2 separate regions of the Homo sapiens genome follow, and region 1 is linked to region 2. The links come from fine-mapping of genetic effects on gene expression. A gene starts in region 2. The other region holds a variant in brackets. All regions are shown on one strand. Distances are from middle to middle. Region 1 holds the start of MIR4775 (microRNA 4775). Region 2 holds the start of CCNYL1 (cyclin Y like 1).

Region 1 (2,911 bases), 44 kb after region 2:
CTTCTGTCCTTTTTAATGTAAACAGAGTTACAAAAACCACTCCAAAGTGAAGGCTCCCATCCTACACACAGATATTTGCTTACTGTGTGGGCCGATAGCTGTGAACTATGTAAGGTTTTTTAAACAATAGTTTAAATTTTTAGACTTTAAAGACACTAACCATATAACTTTTATGTTTCTTCCAGTTTCTCTCCCTCCCCCCGCATTTTGCTGCATATGCCTTTAAAATCAATGCAGTATTACCATTAAAACATGGGACTCTAACTAAAGCCACTTAGGAGCAGACAGCAGCGTTGTTAGGTACTGAAGGGTTCTTCCTCCCTACTGTTACCATTGAAGCTGCTAGTCATTGGCAATCATTTTAAACCAAAAAGCTGCTGGATAACATTTGTCATTCATATTCTTTGCAAGCATTACTTTAGCATTTTAGCATGTTTGGGGTCATAAACAGAGGAAGTATCAGTTATTGATATCTACTTCTATTGGAGTCCATGTTGCATTTCTTGTGAACTATAAATGGTGCTTCTCATTTTCTGATAATTTTTCTCTTGCTAAATAAATGTATTAAAAGATATTTTCATAATGCCAACCAACATGGTGGTTCAGTGACGATGAGAAAAAGTGAAGCAGTTTTAAGCTTGAATATAGTTTGGGCCCTCCAAGGCACTGCAGCATGAGTATAAATGCTATAAACCTTTAAAAAACATGATTTGAAAGTTTTTTGTTTTGTTTTGTTTGTTTTTAAAGAGATGGGGGTCTTACTGCGTTGTCCAGGCTGGAGTGCAGTGGCTTTTCACAGGTGCAATCATTGTGCACTCACTGCAGCCTAGAACTTCCTGGTCTCAAGCCATCCTCTAGCCTCAGCCACACAAGTAGCTGGGACTACAAGTGCAACTGGCACCTGTCTCCTGAATATTAAGCTTTTAATTTTTTGTTTCGGTCACTCTTGATAGCAGACATTGACTGAAACAAAAAATTAAAAGCTTTATATTCAAAATTTGCAAAATGAAGCTGGGTGTGGTGGTGCACGCCTATAGTCCCAGCTACTTGGGAGGCTGAGGCTGGAGGATTGCTTGAGGTCAAGTATTGGAGGCTGCAGTGTACCATGATGGTGCCTATAGGAATAGCTACTACACTCCAACCTGGACAACGTTATCAAGACCCCATCTCTTAGAAAAATGCAAAATTAAATGCAAAAGAAATGGGCTGGGCATAGTGATTCATGCCTGTAATCTCAGTACCCTGGGAGGCTGAGGTGGAAGGATTGCTTGAGTGCAGGAGTTCAAGACCAGTCTAGGCAACATAGTGAGACCCTGCCTGTAAAAAAAAATAATAAAAATAGTTGGATATGGTGGCATGTGTCTGTAGTCCCAGCCACTCTGGAGGCTAAGGTGGGAGGATCAGTAGAGCCCAGGAGGTCAAGGCTGCAGTGGGCCATGATCATGTCACTGCTCTCCAACCTGGG[C/T]GACATCCAGACCCTGTCTCAAAGAAAAAAGCAGAAGAAAAATGTTCAGACAAGGTTTTGTAAAGGTTTGTAGCATTTATATTTCTACAAGTATCAAAGCTTAAAATTACACTGAACTTTTGGAATACCTTGTATCTCCATAAAATGCCCTCTTTTTAAAAGTAGTTACCCGCAGAGCTGTGCTCTATATGCTTTGATTACCGCAGTTTCTTTAAAGGAAGATTTTGAAGAGCAGTGTTAATTAACATGTAATAAAAGGAATTGGACCCTAATTATAGAAGGTGATATGAACAGCTGTTTTATCATCCTACATGCTACCAAGCTGTAGGTGTCCCATTAAGTCCTGCTATTTAAGAAATACTTACATAACCCTTAGGAACTCTTCAGGCTTTAAAAGGCAAGGAGCAAATAATTTTAGGAGACCGATAATGTCACCTAAATTTGAAATACTAAGAAGAGGTTAGTGTTCTCAACTATGTGAAATCTGTTTCTCCTACTTTCTCAAATCTAATCCTAGGAATCTTGCTTATAAACAAAGCATTTCTGGGACAGGAGTACTTCCTCTATTATAGCAATGCTTCACATCATATTGTGCTGCAGTTTCCATCATTTTTAAAGGACAGAGACATAAATGATAAATAATGGTATACAAATATTACAATCTACCACCTCAAAAAAACAAATATTGTTTATGGAATTCAGAGTTTGGAGATTCAAGTATTGATTGCAGTTTTATTTTGAAAAGAATGCTACAATTTATGTGGTTTTTATTTCTCATGTTTATATTAAAAGCTAATAAACTCTATTTTAATTAAAATATGGCTAGTGTGTTTGTAACACTTCTATCCACATAGTGTTACATCTCTGCCCAGCCTAGTTTTAAGTCAATCCTGATATGTCTTAAAGCATTTTCAAACCAACCATAAGTTGATTTGATCCATGCCTCTAGTTAAGATGTAGTGATCCATTTCTTTTGCATATGCTCTTTTCAACCTGAAGATAATTTATTACACTTAAAATCACTGACCACAATACTTAATGGCATAGTGCATTAGATGGCATCTTGAATAGTTGGTTATCGTGTCTGAGAGGGAAAAGCACATTAGAATATAAAATTAAGCAAAATGTATCAAAGAGAAAGGAATTAAAGGAATAGCGTAGAATTAGAACAAGAGGTATTTGAGGTTTTCAGACAAACAGGAAAGAGAATGGAAAGACAGGAACTAGAATTTGTGTTGCTGTTGAGAGGATGTCTTAAGCCACATAATTTGACTTTAATGTGCTATTTTCAAGCTTACATTTCAGTTAAAAATATACCAAGTCACTATTAGGTTTCTTTAGAACTAAGAGTCTAGCCACTCAGCTTTAGCAATTCTCAATAAATCCTGATAGCATTGCAATATTTTCATCCACTTTAATTCTTCATTACCTAAAGTCAAATATTTA
Region 2 (2,911 bases):
CTCACTGCAATCTCTGCCTCCCAGGTTCAGGAGATTCTCCTGCCTCAGCCTCCCTAGTAGCTGGGACTATGGGTGGACGCCACCATGCCTGGCTAATTTTTGTGTTTTTAGTAGAGACGGGGTTTCTCCATGTTGGTCAGGCTGGTCTTGAACTCCTGACCTCAAGCAATTCACCCGCCTCTGCCTCTCTAAGTGCTGGGATTACAGACGTGAGCCACCGCGCCCAACAAGAGCAAAACTCCGTCTCAAAAAAAAAAAAACAAAAAAAAAACAATCCCATTTTGCAGGTTTTATAGAAGAAATTGGGACGCAGAAGTTAAGTTACTTCCGCAAGCTTACATGACTGCTCAGGGTGAGGGTCCCTGATCATGATGATCAGAAAATAAAGGTAGAAATCAAGCTTAGGGAGGAAGTGACATTGTGTGTATATATATATATTTGTTTATTTATTTTTATTTTTATGTTTTATTTTTTTGAAACGGAGCCTAGGTCGCCCAGGCTGGAGTGCAATGGCGCGATCTCGGCTTACGGCAACCTCTGCCTCCCGGGTTCAAGTGATTCTCCTGCCTCAGCCTCCCGAGTAGCTGGGAATACGGGCGCGTGCCACCATGCCCGGCTAATTTTTTGTATTTTTAGTAGAGACGGGATTTCACCGTGTTAGCCAGGATGGTCTGGATCTCCTGACCTGGTGATCCGCCCGCCTCGGCCTCCCAAAGTGTTGGGATTACAGGCATGAGCCACCGCGCCCGGCCGGGATTGTTTTTAAGGGTTAAATAAATATACCACAGTTGGAACACTGTCTGGCACATAGTGCTTGCCAAATGGTAACTATTCATCTTCATGGAATCAAGACTGTGGTGCCCCACTGCATGGTTCTCAGTTTTGCGTGAGAAAATCGTGCTTTCTGTGCTGTTTTTAGTACAAGAAGAGAAACCTGGAAGTCCCTGCCTAGAGGAGAGAAACAGGCAAGAAAAGGGAGTTGGCGAGTCCCAGCATTTCAGAGTTGGCAGGGACGAGTTAGGTCCCTATTTTATGGATGAGGAAGTGGAAGGGTGACGTGTCCTCGAGTCTCATTCAAGACCCACAGCCACAACTCTTTATGGAGAGTAGGACCAGGGCCCCAGGGTTGCTATGATCACGTTGCAGGTGAAAACTAACGCTCATTGGAAGACAGGAGCGGAGCACTGAGTTACAAAAACAGTTAACAATTTGGGTGTAACCAAGTTTAGTGAGCAAACGAAAGCTGTCAGACTCGGAAGAAGAGTTGCTAATGGAGCGAACTCTTTACTAATAACGGCTTTCTACAGAGATCATTGACACAGCTTCCAGTTACAAATGCCCGTGCGCTTCCAGTAGGACCGGAAAGCTCCCAGCAGCCAGCGATGAATGAAAACCCGAGTCTGGGATAGCGGCGTGAGGGGCTGGGCAGCTGCCAGGCGGGGGCGGGGCAGCAGGTCACGTGCCTGGCTTCGAGGCGGGCGCCGGAGGGGGAACTCTGACCATGATTGGTTCCTCCTAACCAGGTGACCGCAGGTCGCGTTCCGGTTGGCAGGCACCGGCCAGGGCCAGCGGCCTTCAGTCGGTAGGCGGCGGCGGAAGGAGGAGGAGCTCCAGCCGCGCTCTCTCCCGGCAGTGGCTGTGCTTCACAGCGCTTGTTGGGTTCCCCACCCCTTTTAAATAAGCCGGGCTGGTCACCGCCCTCGCAGACGAGTCAGCTTAAGGGAGGCGGCGGCAGCGCGGCGGTGGGGGTGCGGCCGAGGCCCGAGCCCTGCCCGGGGCCGGGCCGCGGGGCGGGCGGGCGAACCGCGGGCGAGGCGGCGTCTGCTTGCGCGGTGCAGCCCCAGCGTAGCCCGGGGCTGCCGGTGCCGGCCGCGCCATTGTTGGGGGAGGGGGCGGCTGTTGAGGGCGGCGGAGTAGGGGGCGAGCGAAGGCGGTGGCAGAGAGGAGCGGAGGCTTCCCATGGGGAACACGCTGACCTGTTGCGTGTCCCCCAATGCCAGCCCCAAGCTGGGCCGGCGCGCGGGGTCGGCGGAGCTGTACTGCGCGTCCGACATCTACGAGGCGGTGTCCGGGGACGCGGTGGCGGTAGCGCCCGCTGTGGTGGAGCCTGCCGAGTTGGATTTCGGAGAGGGCGAGGGCCACCACCTGCAGCACATCAGCGACCGCGAGATGCCCGAAGGTAAGGAGGCGGCGGATGCCATCCGCCCTCGGGCTCACCTCTGCCCGCCTCCTCCCCCAGAGTCCCCCGGGAGGCATCCGCCGCCTCGGGCTCCTTCCTGCCGGTAGCCGGCCCCGGGACGAAGGCTGGTTCTGCCTCGCGTCCCCACCCCTTATTCTTGCCCTGCTGCGTCTGGCCAGTTTCTTTTCCTCCTCCTTACCGTAACGCCCAGTTCTTGCTCCCGCTTCCCATTCTCCCAAGCCGGCGTGGGACCCTCTAGTCCGCCGCCCTTCTTGTTTGTAGCTCTGTTCATTGTCTGGTGGGACTTTGCTAAGACTTTTGGGGTATATTGTTTTCCTTTTCTCAATGGAAACTCAAATACCTCAACTTCGGAGTACTCATCCCATTCCCTCCCTTAACCCATCCAGATGGTACCTAAGTGAAGGAACCAGGTAAGGGTCTGATTGTTCCTTCCTCCCATCCGTGAAGATAGCTGATGCCCGCGACAGTTTAGACCCAGATGTTTGAGGATTTCTTATCTAGACTCAAAATAGAGGTTGCCATAGGAGACACTATATGGTATTCCTAATAGGTTAAGTCGGCGTGAAAGAAGCTGCTTTATTCCTTCCAACTATAATTTGAACACAGAAAGAAAGAAAATGGGGGGAGGGGCGTAAAATGACTGTGAAGGGTGTGAGAGGTTATTACCAGGGGTGCAGACAAGTTGTTTTTTTGAGACGGAATCTCGTTTTG

Evidence for each region.
Region 1: its variant is fine-mapped to the expression of CCNYL1 in whole blood (TOPMed, PIP above 0.99).

Annotation. Positions count from the first base shown.
Region 1 is chr2:207,753,893-207,756,803 of GRCh38, forward strand. It overlaps CCNYL1 (cyclin Y like 1), which reads left to right. Exons shown (of 10, transcript NM_001330218.2): 10 at 1-2,282. MIR4775 (microRNA 4775) reads left to right here and starts at 915; the gene lies at 915-989. The variant C/T (reference allele first, on the strand shown) is at 1,466.
Region 2 is chr2:207,709,938-207,712,848 of GRCh38, forward strand. It overlaps CCNYL1 (cyclin Y like 1), which reads left to right and starts at 1,703. Exons shown (of 10, transcript NM_001330218.2): 1 at 1,703-2,179. The coding sequence starts at 1,960. RefSeq lists enhancers at 895-1,094, 1,105-1,154, 1,507-2,503 and silencers at 1,375-1,824, 2,245-2,354, 2,367-2,526.